2 separate regions of the Homo sapiens genome follow, and region 1 is linked to region 2. Evidence: fine-mapped expression QTL. A gene starts in region 2. The other region holds a variant in brackets. All regions are shown on one strand. Distances are from middle to middle. Region 1 overlaps PIK3R6 (phosphoinositide-3-kinase regulatory subunit 6). Region 2 holds the start of ALOX12B (arachidonate 12-lipoxygenase, 12R type).

Region 1 (8,323 bases), 750 kb after region 2:
GGATACACACACTGACACGCATCCACACACATACACTGACACACACTCATGCACGCATACACACACACTGACACACACTCATGCATACACACACACTGACACACGCATGCACACAGACACACACTCATGCACACATACACACACAGACACACTGACACACACTCATGCATACACACACTGACACACGCATGCACACTGACACACACTCATGCACGCATACACACACAGACACAGACATATACCACTGTTTCCAGACAGCTCCATGGGCACGTACAGAGCTGCTCCTCACCGGTCCACAAGTGGAAGGTGATGTAGGGGCTGGGCAGGGGAATGCTTGGTGGCCGCTCTTGGACAAGGTCACCTGCAGAAAGGAGCAGGCTGTGGAGGCCATGGAGGAGGCCATGGGACCCTCCTCTGCCCTCCCCATCCTGCCCAGCTCCTGTGCGGGGTCTTAGAGAGGTGGCAGGGACTCTCTCCTTCACATCTGGTCTGCCTTTCCATCTCTGCCACCACCAGCCCATCCAGGGCCCAACAGTGCAGCTGTCCCCTCCCTGTCCAACAATGCTTAGTAGCTACGTTTTCTCAAACCTAGCTCAACCCTTAGGGGGTCTTCACAAACCAGCTCACAAGGCCTTTTCCAACCTATGCTCCTATGCTGGCCATGCCTTCAGCCCTGTGCAGCTGCCAGACTGGCTTTCCCACTGTTCTTAAAATGCCCTGCCTGCATCCAGACGAGGCAGGAAAGACCCCTGCCCTTCTCAGGGCTGCTTCCAATATCTTGCATGCAGTAGACACTCAGTTAACATTTGCAGCTGTCGGCGATGCTGACGAGAACTCATCAACAAAGTTTGGGGGCAGCAGGAACCCCGGGCAGTCCAGGGGAGAGACAAAGGACAGCCCTTCTTCCTGCTTCTCTTTCTAGAATCTTTTCTGACCACTCCAGTGGCCCGCGGTGGTCATTCCCTCCGAGCAGACTGTCTGCACACTGGGCACACCTCACATGTGGTCTTAGGATTTGGCTCCGTATTCCCGTTTCACTTCTATATTGCTGTGGCTCCCCACTCATGAGGCTGCAAGCTTCTTAGGGGAGAGCAGCTAGTGTTCACTGAGCACCTACTGCCTGCCAGGCCTTATTCTACTCACCTGGCACACACTGTAATCATTTCTCTGGATCCTGCCAATGGCCCTGGGCAACAGGTGACATTATTATCCTCAATTTACAGGGGAGAAGCCAGGACACAGAGAGGTTGAATAACTGGCCCAAGGTCACATAGTAAATAGTACAGTGACGACTTGAGCCCAGGCAGCTCAGCTCCAGAGTTCCTGCTCTTACCCACAACACTGTGCTTATAATCACCACTCCATACTGCCCCCTACAGCCACAGGGGCTTGACGGGGGTGCTGCCTGGTCATTAAGATGCACAGGGCTTGGCCGGGCACGGTGGCTCATGCCTGTAATCCCAGCACTTTGGGACGCCGAGGAGGGTGGATCACGAGGTCAGGAGATCGCAACCATCCTGGCTAACACGGTGAAACCCCGTCTCTACTAAAAAAACACAAAAAAATTAGCTGGGCATGGTGGCAGGCGCCTGTAGTCCCAGCTACTCGGGAGGCTGAGGCAGGAGAATGGCGTGAACCCAGGAGGCAGAGCTTGCAGTGAGCGGAGATTGAGCCACTGCACTCCAGCCTGGGTGACTGAGCAAGATTGTGTCTCAAAAAAAAAAAAAAAAAAAAAAAGATGCACAGGGCTTAGCCAGGTGTGGTGGCACGTGCCTGTGGTCCCAGCTAGTCGAAAGGCTGAGGTGGGAGGATCGCTTAAGCCCAGGAGGTCAAGGCTGCAGTGAGCCATGATCGAGCCACTGCACTCCAGCCTGGGTGACAGAGCAAGACCCTGTCTAAAAAAAAAAAAAAAAAAAAAAAAAAGGCACAGGGCAAGTCTGGGCAGGAGACAGGTGCCCTTGGATGTGTCTTGGGGGTGGCCCAGATGGTCTTAATTAATCCATGCAGAGTCACTGGTGAGTGTTAGCAAGGGGCCACAAGGGGAGCAAAGCCAGATTGGCCCCAGGGTTAGTCCCAGCTTGGGGTACAGGAGGAGCTTTTTCCATGTGGGATCAGAGGCAGTGTAGAATGTTAAAGTAAAAGAGCGGACAACTTCGAAGATGGAGTCTTTAGGCAGGGACTATCCTGCCCACCTCACCCAACTGCTGTGGCCTCCACCCAACCTGGGCTGCCAAGTTCAAACCCAGGGCCTGGCACACTAACCTCTTCCGGTGGATTCCAGTCCTTAACCCCATGCCTTATAATGACAGGTGCACGATCAGTGACTGTGCATATCTGGGACATGCAGGCTGACATATTCCATGATACTTTGAATGACCACGAAATAGGACCCAAATCAGAACCATCCTACAACAGCCAGGAAACACATATTCGGGACGTTTCTCTGGGCTATTTCAGATGCCCCCATCCACATGGGGCTTGTGTCAGGGTAGGCATTATCTTACCTACATTATGCCTTGCATAAGATAAGGCGTTATCTTATAAATATGCAAATAGGAAGGGTGAGGAATAAAAATCTATGATACCAGATATAAACGATGTTGACTCATCTGCTCTTTTAGATGCTCTGGTCCTTGGACGATCAAATCCTTGGATTACTGCAGCTGAGTAGTGAACTAGACAGCCTGGATTTGTATCTTGGCTTTGCCATTTACTGCCTTGGGTGATCTTGGGCAAGATATTTAACCTCTTTCTAACTCAGTTTCGTCCTCTGTAAAATGGGGATAATAATAGTTTCTGCTTATAAGTTGACTGTGAGGTTTCATTGATTTAATACAGTATACGCAATATATTTAAATATATGTAAGGTGATTAGAACAGCAACTGGAGTATAGTAGGGGCTCTGTGGGCATCGGCGGTTATCATGACCAAATTACCCACCTTCTTTTTTTTTTTTTTTTTTTTTTTTTGAGACGGAGTCTCGCTCTGTCGCCCAGGCTGGAGTACAGTAGTGTGATCTCGGCTCACTGCAACCTCCGCCTCCCTGGTTCAAGTGATTCTCCTAACTCAGCATCCCGAGTAGCTGGGACTGCAGGTGCCCACCACCACGCCCAGCTGATTTTTTTTTTTTTTTGAGACTAAACCCTCTACTACTTTAGTAGAGGGTTTCCCCATGTTGCCTAGGCTGGTCTCGAAACCCTGACCTCAGGTGATCCGCCTGCCTCGGCCTCCCAAAATGCTGGGTTAACAGGCGTGAGCCACCGCTCCCAGCCTAATTACCCGCCTCTTAGTCCCGGTCCTGCCAAACCCCCAGGCTGCCCCCAGTCCCCAGGCTCCTGGGAGTCGGCCAGGCACCCAGACAGAGGCAGGTCCAGCGCTGCTCTCTGGCGCCCCCTGCTGTGCAGTGAGCTGCCCCCGCGGGACTCTTGCCAAGGCCCCCCATCTGCCAGTCGCTTACCACCGCAGCGCCCCGCCGCGGGACCCAGCAGCGAGCAGTAAATCTCCTCCAGCCTCTCTACGTGTCCCTCCCGGCTCGGGCTGGCCTCGCTGGCCATCTGCTCCAAGGCGGCCACCACGGCGTGGAAATAGTGCTCCAGGGTGCGGCGAGGGCTGGCCTGTTGGGGAGGGGCGTCAGAGCCTGGGTCTTGGCCCAGCGCCCACGCACCCCAGCTCCTAAGCCAAGTCCGCAGGGCCCTGGCAGCCCAAGGTGACACCTCTCCGCTGCCCCTGGGGGCCCGGCAGGAGCTTCCCCCGAAGGCTTCTGGATCCCACATCCAGGGCCCTATGCCTGCCCTGCAAGTGGGGGTTCCCCTCTGCCCCTCACACGCTATTATGGGGAGACTACTGGTCTGCAATGTCTGTTACCCAGAGAGGCAGAGATAGCCACTGACGCCCACTTCCTGAAAGCGTCACCCAGCACTTGGATCAATGTTCTAGCCCCCACTAGATTGTGAATTCCAGGAATTCACAGGGAATTTTGTCTGTTTCATTCATAGCTGCATCTCCAGCACTTAGAATAGCTCACTGCACCAGGTGTTGTTCTAGGGGCTGGGATACAGCAGCAAACAAAAGAGATTGTGTGATCTGGGAAGCCCCCCCTGAGAAAGTGACTTTTTTTTTTTTTTTTTTGAGACG[G/A]AGTCTTGCTCTGTCACCCAGGCTGGAGTGCAGTGGTGTGACTTTGGCTCATTGCAACCTCTGCCTCCTGGGTTCAAGCGATTCTCCTGCCTCAGCCTCCCGAGTATCTGGGACTACAGGTGCGCACCACCACATCCAGCCAATTTTTGTATTTTTAGTAGAGACGGGGTTTCACCATGTTGGCCAGGACGGTCTCGATCTCCTGACCTCATGATCTGCCTGCCTTGGCCTCCCAAAGTGTTGGGATTACAGGCGTGAACCACCGCGCTTGGCCGAAAGTGACTTTTAGGTAAAGACTTGAAGTGAAAGAGTGAGCCATGCAGCCCAGCGCGGTGGCTCACGCTTGTAATCTCAGCACTTTGGAAGGCCGGGGTAGGTGGATCACGAGGTCAGGAGATGGAGACCACGGTGAAACCCCGTCTCTACTAAAAATAGAAAAAATTAGCTGGGTGTGGTGGCCGGCGCCTGTAGTCCCAGCTACTCAGAGAGGCTGAGGCAGGAGAATGGCGTGAACCCAGGAGGCGGAGCTTGCAGTGAGCCGAGATCACGCCACTGCACTCCAGCCTGGGCAACAGAGCAAGACTTCGTCTCAAAAAAAAAAAAAAAAAAAAAAGAGTGAGTCGTGCAGGTATCTAAGAGAACGTTCCAAGCATAGGGAGTAGCCAGCGCAAAGGCCCTGGGGTGCAAGTATGTTAGGCATGTGCATGTTGGGAGACAAATGAGGAGGCTTGTTTAGCTGGAGCAGAGGAAATGAGAGGGAAAGTTAGGAGACAGGCCAGAGAGGAAATGAAGAGAGATGGGAACAGGTCAAGGCCCTCAAGATGAGGTTCTTGTATTTTTATTTTTAGAGATGGGGTGTCTCTCTGTTACCCAGGCTAGAGTGCAGTGGTACAGTCACAGCTCACTGCAGCCTTGAACTTGGCTCAAGTGATCCTCTTGTCTTCCGAGTAGCTGGGACTGCAAACACATGTCACTGCGTCTGGTATTTTTTTTTTTTTATTACTTTTTGTAGAAATGGGGTCTTGCTATGTTGCCCAGGCTGGTCTCAAACCCCTGGCCTTAAGCAATCCTCCTGCCTCGGCCTCTCAAGTACCTGCAATTATAGGCATGAACCACCACACCAGGCTCTTATAGGTCATTGCAATCACTTTGGCTTTGACTCCGAGTGAGATGATGTAGTAGCTACTGTTGTGGTGACCCAGATTCCTGCTTTCGGGGCTGAGACACTCATTCACCCTGCTGCTAGGAATACTGGCATTATCTTATATCTTATTATTGGTTTTTTTTTTGGAAATGGAGTCTCTCTCTGTCACCCAGGCTGGAGTGCAGTGGCACAATCTTGGCTCACTGCAACCTCCACTTTCCGGGTTCAAGCTATTCTCCTGCCTCAGCCTCCAGAGTAGCTAGGATTACAGGTGCCCGCCACCACGGCCAGTTAGTTTTTGTATCTTTAGTAGAGACTGGATTTCGCCATGTTGGCCAGGCTGGTCTTGAACTCCTGACCTCAGGTGATACACCCGCCTCAGCCTCCCAAAGTGCTGGGGTTATAGGTGTGAGCCACTGCGCCCAGCCAAAATGTATTAATTTTTGATTTGGGGGAAAAGGTGATGCGAAACAGGAGAAGGAGGAAGAGCAGGGTGAATGACTGGTATGGGCATGCAGGGACGAGGGCTGGGACTGACAAGGGGCTGCAGGCAGGGCCATTACCTGCAGCTTCCTGTGCAGAGCGCCTGCGTGACAGGCCTCCCCCAGAGCCGCCTGCAGGGCGTGGGAGACCACGTGGCGCATGCAGGTCTCTGGTGTCTGCTGCGCCTGGGCCGCCTCGATCTCCAGTAGCAGAGCACTGCACACAGACGCAGACACCAGCTCAGGATCCACGAAGAGGAACACTCTGAGGGCAGAAGCAGAGGGGAGAGGTGGGATTGATAGTAACTAATGGGAGAGGGGCCACCGGATGGGCACCCTCAGAGCTGTGCAGCACCTCCAAGTAATTTAATTCTGCTAAAAAGAGGAGTCTCAGATTCAAAAGTCTCTGGGTGGGATGACAATAGGGAGTGGTGAGGACTGTGGCAAATAAGAGCATGCACAGCCCTTCTAGAGGGGCAGCTCTAATCCACTGTCCACAGAGGAAAGCAGGCCTAGTCCCATGTTTAGGAAAGTTCCAGCCTCAATCCTGCTCCCTCTCTCAGCATCCTGGCCCAGGGACCAGGTCACCCTCTAGGAGGGACCCTAAATCCTTCCTGCCAGAACTGGAGTTCTGAACTCTGAGTGAATCTCACCTTCTTTCATCACTCTTATCACACCAGAGAGCCAACCTCCCCTACTCCCTCCTCCTCACCCACTGTGTCTCCCCACCTCTCCCATGGGTGCCCTGGGCCTCCTTGCATCTTTCATGAACTCAGCACCTCACACCCCAAACTCAAGCTGTGCCTTTCAGGGCCAAGTTAGTGGAGGTGCCTGCAGAAGAGGGAGGTGCCGCTCCCAACTTCATCACCCCTCTCCCCAACACGAGCAGGGGACACTTCCTCAGTCTTATCTAAGAGGCTTGGCGTCCCCCATGGAAGCCCTCTGGCTTCATTGTGCACTTGCGCCTGAGCCCCTCCGCTATGGCTATTCTGGAGTCTCCTCTGGCTGCCTGGCTGGTATGATGCTGCATTATGGCCAAGGGCAGGATGGAGGTGGAATGACAGAGCCCCAGAGTGGCCCCGAGGCCATGTCCACCTTCTGCATGTGAGCAGGGTAGCTTCCAATCCAACCTGAGAAGAAAGACCTATCCTGTGTTCAGTGGTCTCCAGAAAACAATATGGCGCCAACCTTGAATGGCAAACGCACCCCACTGCTGGACAAATATCATGGCTGGGGAGGTCTGCTAGGGCTCTTCTTAATCCAGCCTCCTCTTTTGTCCTCCTGCCAGGGAGCAGTCACTAAAGCCACAACAGTTTTAGGAGGCTGAAGGTAGCAATTTTTCTGGGGCCACTCACCTCTCCTGGTAGGGATACAGCTCATTCGTCAAGTTCTGTTCGGCAATGACCATCCTTTGGTACAGTGTCCCTGCAAACCAGACCACTTTGGCCAAACAGCCCCCAAGTCTCTGACTCCCATTCTCCACCTTCCTACAGAAGGTGTGGAGGCTTTTGAGCTCCCCGGTATCCTGGAGAAAAAGGAAAGACCCTGGGCAATGTTGGAGGTGCAGCGTGGGAGACAAAGATGCCCAGTGACTCTTACCTGGGACAGCCATCTCCGTTTTCAGCCTTATCGCGCAGTCCAAGGCGACTGTGCAGTAGGGGGTGGGCAGGGTCAGTAACCTTGTGCAAAAGGCATAGATTCTCTGGTAGAGCTCTTCTGTGATTCCTGTGGCCTGGGTGAGAGGGAGGAGGGGGAGGTGAGAGGGAGGAGGTGGAGGTAAGAGGGAGGAGGGGGAGGTGAAGGGTCCCGGGGGAGTTTCCGGGGAGGGGCTTGGGAGAAGAGGTGGAAGGTCAGGCCTAACAGCCAGACCTGGGCTCACAGCTCTCTCCCAAACCCACACCTTCCAGCCTCTTCTCCCAGCACCTGTAAGACATCCATTTGTCGCCCCGCCCCAACTTACCAAGATAAAAATTCATTGCATCAAGTTATGCAAGCAAATCAACTTCCTCCCAGCCCTCCTGCTCCATCAGGGAAGCACATTCCTGCGGTTCTCCAGGCTCAAAACCATGGAGGCACTTCCTCAGTCTCCTTTGCTCCTCCTTGCATCCCACAGGCCTGAAATGCTCCACAGTGCCCGGGAGGCCCCCCTCTCCCTCCCGACCTCAGTGTGCCCTCCGTCTCTGCCGGAGCTAAGCCCCATCTTGACCCTGGACTCTCCAGCAACCCCAGACTTGGTCTTCCTGCCTGCCTTAACCACCACTCCCACCCGCTGCAACAACACGCAGCTCCCGATTACTCCTCCTGAGACATTAACCACATGAGTATCATGTCTCTTCTCTGTGTAGGGATCAGTGATGTCTCCTGTTGCACTGCACACAGGAGCAAACCCAAAGACCTCATCCTGCCTTTCAAGGCCATTGTCTCTCCAGAGTTCTCTCTCCATATGGGAGGGAAAGGGGGTGGCTAGTGCTCAGAAGCCAGTTTAGGGCAGGCAATCCAAGGGATTTTCTAGGCTCATCCTGGCGGAGACTGAGTGCCCACTAAGGGGAGAGTGTCCAGCCCA
Region 2 (8,310 bases):
CAGAGACCTAGCTCGTTTTCATCCCCAGGGCGGAAGACTCACTCCTTTGAGGGCCCTATGGGTGACTCAAGTCTCCCTGTCCTGTTGCGTGGCAGCGGCCCCACCCAACCCCATTCCTGCCTGGCCACCAGCATCACCCTGCCTGTCCCCTGCTTCCATGTCACCCAGACCTGTCACTGCAGGAAGATGCTCTGTGTCCCCAGTGAGACCCTCCCCTTGGCATGCTCACCATCTCCCAGGCTTTCCTCGCCTCTCCTTTCCCCAGCTCAGGCCCTGTTCCCCAATCCTGGGGGAAGATTCCAGCACAGGGCAATGAGAAACGGAAGAGAGGTAGTCAGCTGCAGGGAGGATGGGGCTTCGGGCCCTGGGTGTCCTCAGCTCAGCCTTTCCCTCCCATTCGCCTCAAGGGAAGCCAACAGACACTCAGGTGGTGGAACTGGGAGATAAGAGAGGACAGGCCCCCAGTCCTCATGCAGCACCACAAATTAGGAAGCTGACCCCAGCCCACCACACAAGGGGCTCTGGCAGGGGTGGGTGCAAGGAGCTCAGCCACTCCGGTCCTATGTCTCTCCCATGGGAGTAACCAAGCAAGTGGAAAACCCACTGGGCAGCCTTGGCCAGCCTTAACCTTGGAGAAACCCTGACAGTCTATCTGAATAACAGGGCCCCTATTAGATAGATCCTTACTGGATTAAGGGGGGCCTTTTGGAGTAACAGTGCATCCTGTTAGAGAAATATGGTGTCCTGTTGGGAAAATAGGGAGTCCTTTGGAGCAATAGAACATCCCATCAGTCTAAAAAATGCTCAATTAGAAAACTGGGGCTCATGCCTGTAATGCCAGCACTTTGGGAGGCTGAGGCAGGCAGATCACCTGAGTTCAGGAGTTTGAGACCAGCCTGGCCAACAAAGTGAAACCCCATCTCTACTAAAAATGCAAAAACTAGCATCAGGAGGCTGAGGCAGGAGAATCGCTTGAACCTGGGAGGTGGAGGTTGCAGTGAGCCGAGATCGTGCCATTGCACTCCAGCCTGGGCAACAAGAGTGAAACTCCGTCTCAAAAAAAGAAAGCCAGGGCGTCATAATTATAAGACCGCAGCACCACGGAGACCTGTTGAACTCAAAGGGCTTCTAAATGGGATAGCAAGGTGCTGGTTGGAATAATGGGGCATCCTGTTATAGTAACAGAATCCTGCTGGAGTAACAGGGCGTCTTTCTGGAGCGCATATGATTGGCATCATAAATAGGCCTCCTGTGAGAGTCCTGAGCCTGTACTTAGCATCACAAGGGGTATTTTTAACGTGGCCGGGCATCTTATAGGAGTCAGGGAGGACTGGAGAGGTAGCGGGGAGCGCACTCTGGGAATGCTGTCTGCTGCCAGATGGGGATGCTGAGGGTAGCTGCTGGGCCTCAGGCACCTCTCTTCCTCCAATGTGCAGCCCCAAGCTGAGCTCAGGGCAGCAGCACTGACTGAGGGAAATGTGTGACAGTGGCAGGAGAGCCCAGGAGTCCCTGGTGGGGCTGGGCCCCCCTCTGGCTTGATGGGAGCCTGGGTGCCATGCCAGGGTAGCAGGCTGGAGCTAGAGGCCTCACGGCCATAGGATGGAGCAGGGTGATGAGGGCTTACCTGTGGCCTCCCGGAGTGCCAGGGTCTCGTAGCCATCCATCCACTGGTAGGCGGGGAAGTGGTAGATACGGCCGTTGGGGGCACAGATCTGCACATAGTTGCAGTACCAAGGGTCCTTGGGGAAGAAGGCGTACCGCTCTTTGTGCAGGCGGATGATGATGAGCTCACCCAGGTCCTGAGGGCACTGCACGGTGTACTGGCCCACCTAGGCAGGATGCAAGCCTGGCTGAGTGGGCAGGACTTCACCCCGGCTCCCAGGCCGCCCACCCCTCTGGCCCCTCACCTAGGCCCTGCTCATGCTGCGCAATGCTCACCTCCCTGGACTGACGGAGGGACAGGATATTGACCTGATCATTGAGCTTCCTTCTGACTTCTCCAGCTTGGGGGTCTCCTACTGGATTCCTCTACCCAGGGCTATGTAGGACTCCAGCCCCTCCTTCTCTCCATCCCCAGCTCCTGTCTTCTCCCACTCCCCTCTCCAGGCACCTGAGGTTGCAGGAACCCTTCAGACCCCTGGGGACTTGGGTACCACTCTACAGTTTTCGAGTGGGGAGAGGCCCAGCCAGCCCCTTCTCCCATTCATCAATGAAGATGCAGATATTCAGAATGGCCACATAGATAGAGTGACCTATTAAGGTCGCCTAGCAGCAGGTGGCTGGGTCTGACTGAAAATCAGGTCTGAGGACCCGCAAAGCGTGCCTTCCACTGGACAGGCTGGTCTGATGCCATTTTAAGTCACAGAGAATCCAGTGCAAATGTGAGACAGTTAGGAGGCAGCTGAATTAGGAAGAGTGACTGAGAATGGAAGAGAGAGGGATGCGGGAGAGGGGGTAAGACAGAAAGGGGAGGAGAGCAAAGGGGAAGGAAAGCAGGTGGAAAGGATTGAGAAAAGAGAGATGCAGGATAGGCAGAGACAGGGAGAGAGGGCTGAGGAAGAGGGAGAGAGAAGAAAAGGATGGGGAGGGAGATGAGGAATGCCTGAAAGGGTTAGAGATGAAGGAGCAGGATGGAGAAGGATGGCCCAGAGATCTGGGACATGGGCGAGGGGCTGGAAGCCAGCTCTGGACAAGGCGTGTAGAGCCACTGGGGAGCCCACTGCCTTCGGAGCTGTGCCTCAGCTCTCCAGCCTCTCCTCGCCAAGCTCAGCTCACCTGGCTCCCCCTGCGCACCTTCACCCCTCCCGGGGCCACAAAGACACACAGACACACACAGACACACACAGACACACACACACACACACACAGACACACACACACACACACACACACACACACTCTTACCGCCCCAGTTGCAAAGTCTCTCCCAAAGTGGTTCAGCAGCTGCTTATGGCTCTCTCCTTGTGTCCCCACAATGGTCAGTGAGATGGAGTCCCGTGTTCCCGACAAGAGGTCGGTGCCTGTGGCCACCCTGACTTTGTAGGTGGCCATGGCTGCTCTTCAGGAGGCAAGAGGGGCACTCAGTCCCAGACACCGTGGAGGGGCCACACGAAGGCCCAAGGCAGGCAAGAGAAGCCAGGCACAGAGTGGAGTGGACAGGGCTGGCCTCCGAGGTGCAGTGGTGAGGTGGCGAGGTGGGGTGACTAGGCCTGCCAGCCAAATTCTGGAAAAGCTGCTGCCCTTGGTGGCCGGGGTGGGTGCCGGGCAGGCCCAGGCGGAGCCCAGCTGGTGGTGAGTGAGCAGGTGTCTGGGCTCCAAGCCTTCTGGGAGCTGGTGGGGAGGAAGAGCAGGCAGGGCACTGGGCCTGCCTCTGAAAGGGCGGATAGAAGATGCCGTGGATGAAGGCGCCTTCAGGGTGGGGGAGCCAGTCCAGCCTGAGCCAGGGCCCTAGGGAAGTTGCGGGAGGGGGCAGGGTGTGGTCCCCAGATCTTTATCAGACTAATAAGCTCCTTCCTCCTGCCAGTCCCCATTGGCTACAGTGCCAGGCACCCCTACTAAGCAGGGCCATGGGCAGTGAGTGACTTGCATTGGTTCTGAGGCCACTGGTGGGCGGGGGAGGGGAGGGGGAGGGGCACTAAGTGGCAGCGCAGCTGGCCAGCCTCCAGGCCATTCCTCTCTGGGAAATGGGACAGGTAGTGGCCACAGTGAGAAAGCTGGCCTGTCCTTCTGCCCCAGGGCCCAGAGTCTGTGACTGGAAGGGTGGGAGGTGTTGAAGCTAGGGCTCGGGGACCACATGGGTGCCCAAAGGCCTGAAGATGCTGCGGGGAGGAACGATCAGGGTAGGAGAAGGGGATCTGTTGCTTCCTGTGGGGCCAGGATCCACTGGTGAGGGATTGGAGTTGGATATAAAATCAGAAGCCCAAAAAAAAAAAAAAAAAAACTAAATTAGAAGACAGAGTGAAATCTGGGGCATAAGAATTAAGTTAAATAGCTGGGCGTGGTGGCTCACGCCTGTAATCCCAGCACTTTAGAAAGCCAAGGCAGGTGGGTCACCTGAGCTCAAGAGTTCGAGACCAGCCTGGCCAACATGGTGAAACCTTGTCTCTACTAAAAATACAAAAATTAGCCAGGCGTGGTGGCATGCGCCTGTAGTCCCAGCTACTTGGGAGGCTGAGGCAGGAGAATCGCTTGAACTCAGGAGGCGGAAGTTGCAGTGAGTTGAGATCGTGCCACCGCACTCCAGCCTGGGCAACAGAGCAAGACTCCGTCTCCAAAAAAAAAAGACAAAAGAATTAAGTTAAATAATGGATTAATATGATCAATATTTTGTGGTATAATCATAAAATAGAATTCTACCCAGGAATAAAAAGAATGAACTGCAATGCGGATGAGTCTCACAAAGATGATACTGAGCAAAAAGAGCCAGACATTAAAGGGGATACGTTCTGTTATCCATTGATAGGAACTTCCAGAACCAGCAAAACTGAGCAATTCTCAGACAACCTCTACTGGTGAGTATCCCTGGCAGAGGGAGGCCATATAGGCTGCTGGAGGTGTTCTTATCTTGATCTGAGGGGCGTCTAGGGTACTTCATTCATTTCATTATGTGTTATCCTTTAATTTCATAAAGTACATACCCTCACTTCCCTCCCAAAAAAGAATGAAGCTAGGAAGAGGGCTGGAGGCAGGGCTGAGCTCCAGTGGAACTGTGTTTGTTGGGAACCAGGTCGTTCCTCCCTCAGATATGTAGTGAGCACGGTGCACGGCGTTCTAGGCACTGCAGAGGCAGAGAAGAAATGAAACATACATGGAGCTTACGGAATAGCTGGGAAAGAAGTGAAAGAAACAGTAAACAAGAATTTGTTCACTATAATTTTGGATACTAAGTGCTCTGAAGAAAATAAGCGTGGGAGGTTGGGATTGGGAACTAGTTGCTGATAGAATCACAGAAGTCAGAGCCGCAGGATAGGGAGAAGGTGTTAGGAGTAAGGTGAAGAGCATTATGAGAGAGTCAGAGATAGACTCTCCAAAGATAGGATTTGGGACCCAGGGAGAGTGAGGAGGCAGGCACGTTCCTATTCCCTTTTTCTGGACCTGTCCTCTTTCCTTTCACCTCCGAGGAGCAGCTTCTGTCAACCAGGAAGCATAGCCCTGCTTTCCTCCCTGATGGCACGCTTCCATCACCATCGAAGGAAGGTCATTCAATGCCCAGGCCAAGTTAGGGTCAGAGGGGGCTGGGATTGTGAGATGAAGAGAAGGTTCCAGTAGGTTCCAGACTGGATGTGGAATGGGGTCGAAACTGCAATTCAGGTTTAGGTTAGAGACACAGATGTGGCTGGAGTTGGGGATTGAAATGATCTTTTCCAGACCCAAATCTGTTCACATCACTCTCTATGTTCCCTCCTCCCAACCCTGATCAAGCCTGGCAGTGGCTCCTCTTTACCTTTGGGACAGTGACACCATCCCCTCCCGTGGCCCCCACGGCCTGCCTGATTGGCTTCACCCCTCACATTCCCCTTTGCTCTCTTCTGTCTGGGACCACGTGCCTTTCATTCATTCATCAACAGACACTGGCCGAACCCCTACTGTGTGTTCAGCGCTGTGTCAGGTCCTGAAAATACAATGCGATCAAAGCAAACCCCTGCACCCATGGAGCTTGCCTTCAAGTGAGGGAAGCAGACAATATTACCTAGTAACCAAATACATTAAATAGTATGTTAAATAGTGATAAGTGCTGAAGAGAAAAGAGAGAACAGGGAAGGATAATATAAAAAATAGAGGAGTGCCGGGCATGGTGGCTCATGCCTGTAATCCCAGCACTTTGGGAGGCTGAGGTGGGCGGATCACCTGAGGTCAGGAGTTCGGGACCAGCCTGACCAACATGGAGTAACCCCGTCTCTACTAAAAATAAAAATTAGCCGGGCATGGTGGCGCATGCCTGTAATCCCAGCTACTCGGGGGCTGAGGCAGGAGAATAGCTTGAACCCAGGAAGCAGAGGTTGCAGTGAGCCAAGGTCATGCCATTGCTATCAAGCCTGGGCAACAAAAGCGAAAATCCATCTCAGAAAAAAGAAAAGGAGGATATTTTAGATACAGAGTGGCCAAGGAGGGCTCCTTGGGAAGAAGACTTTTGAGTAAAGACCTGAAGGAAGTGAAGTCAGCTCGTCACCATCCCAGGGCCTTGGCACATGCTGTTCCCTCTCTACCTCTCAAACTGAGGTCACGTTTCCTCTTCCTCCTGATCTTAGCTCAATAATTGCTTTTTCCAGGAAAGCCAAATTTCACTATACATGGCTCTCACAGCACTATAGCTAACATCTTTGATTGATGTCTGTTTTCTCTAATAAATTAGTCCATACTTTTTTTTGGTTTTGTCCCCATCTCCTGGTGTCATACTTGGTACCTGGGAGACACCGAAAACATAGTTGAATGGGTTAATGACAAGGACAAGGTCAGGGCTGGGGATTGAATCGATGATGGCTTTGGAGTTATGGTGAAGATCCGAAGAGAGCTGACTTGGGCTCAGGGTGAGAGAAGGGGCAAGGCGTGGTGTAGGGGAGGGAAAGGGGTTGGGTGGGGAGGGAGGGAGGAGAGGGGAGAAGGCTGAGGATGAGGGTTGTGCCCAGCTCTGGGTGGCAGGGCTGGCTGTCCTGGGCTGCAGACAGAAGCCGTCCAGCTGGATCTCCCCCCTGGGATCTCCCTCCTCAACCACCTCGATGACTCTTGGAGGATGCTGGGAGCCTGAAGATGCAAATCTTAAGATGCAAATTCCATGCAAATTCTCCCAGCTTCCTCTTTCTAATCTCTCCCCTTTGCCCTGTGTCCCCAGGGGGCTGCTGAGGCTTGGTGAGAAGCAGGGCAGTGGACTGGGCAAACTGAGTCATATCCTGCTACCAATAGGTCTCCTCCAACCCAAATCCCAGGGTGGCCCTGGGTTTGCTCAGGGCTCCAGTGTGGAGTGGGAATTAGGTTCCTGAGGGAGACGGAGATGGAGGCAGGGATGCTGAGGATGTCAATGTGGCTGGGGCAGGGACAGGGACGGGATCAGGCATGAGGATGTAGATGGGGCACTCCCCAGCTATGACCAAAACGTAGACGCGTGACTCTTGATAGGTGCTCATTGGGCTGAAGAACTGGTTCTCCTGGACCAGGGGCGGGAGCCAGTGAGGAGGAGAGGTTTCTGGGAAGGATTCACACTCACTGGGGTTGCTAACTAGGGGCCATCCACACAGGAAGCTGAGTTCTCACTGCTGGGGTATCCCCCGTGCCTGACCCCACCCCAAGCCCTGCAAGGCAAGGAGCAACTAACTCCTGGGGACCCACTCTCCTAAGACACAGAGAAAGAAAAATCAAATCACGCCACTCCCCTGCTTAAAGTTCACCAGAGCTTAAAATGGGGTTGTCCGTAGAAATGAATCCAAGGGCCAGGCGCGGTGGCTCATGCCCATAATCCCAGCACTTTGGGAGGCCAACACAGGCGGATCATGAGGTCGGGAGTTCAAGACCAGCCTGACCAACATGGTAAAACCCCGTCTCTACTAAAAATACAAAAATTAGCCGGGCGTTGTGGCACGCGCCTGTAATCCCAGCTATTCAGGAGGCTGAGACGGGAGAATCGCTTGAACAGGGGAGGTGGAGATTGCAGTAAGCCAAGATAGCGCCACTGCACTCCAGCCTGGGCAATAGAGAGAGACTCCGTCTCAAAAAAAAAAAAAAAGAAAGAAAGAAAGAAAGAAAAGAGACGAATCCAAGGACTTATCATGTCTACAAGACCATGCCTTCCCGACACCTTTTTCCAGCCACTCTGGCCTTCTTGCTGTACCCAGAACATGTGTCCTTCAGGACCCTTGCATTTGCCATTCCTGGGTTTGTAATACCCTTCCCCCAAGCTGTTCAAGCTGTTTCAACCAAGCTGTTCAAGCTGTTTCAAGAGTGGTTTTGTTTGTTTGTTTGTTTGTTTGTTTGTTTTGAGACGGTGTCTCACTCTGTCACCTAGGCTGGAGTGCAGTGGTGCAATCTCAGCTCACTGCAACCTCCACCTCTCAGGCTCAAGCGATCCTCCCACCTTGGTCTCCCGAGTAGCTGGGACCACAGGCGTAGTCCACCTGGCTAATTTTTTGTATCTTTTGGTAGAGATGGGATTTTGCCACGTGGCCGGGACTGGTCTCAAACTCCTGAGCTCAAGCGATTTGCCTGTCTCAGCCTCCCAAAGTGCTGGGATTACAGGAGTGAGCCACCGCACCCGACCCTAAGCGTGTGTTGTTCATGTCATCCAGGTCTCAACTCTAGTGTCACCTCCTCAGAGTCCCT

What was found.
Region 1: its variant is fine-mapped to the expression of ALOX12B in stomach (GTEx, PIP 0.97).

What each region holds. Positions count from the first base shown.
Region 1 is chr17:8,829,432-8,837,754 of GRCh38, forward strand. It overlaps PIK3R6 (phosphoinositide-3-kinase regulatory subunit 6), which reads right to left. Exons shown (of 20, transcript NM_001010855.4): 6 at 7,360-7,492; 7 at 7,116-7,185; 8 at 5,842-6,025; 9 at 3,458-3,614; 10 at 275-361. Among named protein-coding and RNA genes, the nearest start is that of PIK3R6, 34 kb to the right of the region's middle. RefSeq lists enhancers at 3,790-3,869, 7,395-8,201. The variant G/A (reference allele first, on the strand shown) is at 4,135.
Region 2 is chr17:8,084,392-8,092,701 of GRCh38, forward strand. ALOX12B (arachidonate 12-lipoxygenase, 12R type) reads right to left here and starts at 3,325. Exons shown (of 15, transcript NM_001139.3): 1 at 2,905-3,325; 2 at 1,625-1,829. The coding sequence starts at 3,051. It overlaps MIR4314 (microRNA 4314), which reads left to right and starts at 3,665; the gene lies at 3,665-3,756. RefSeq lists an enhancer at 2,353-3,101.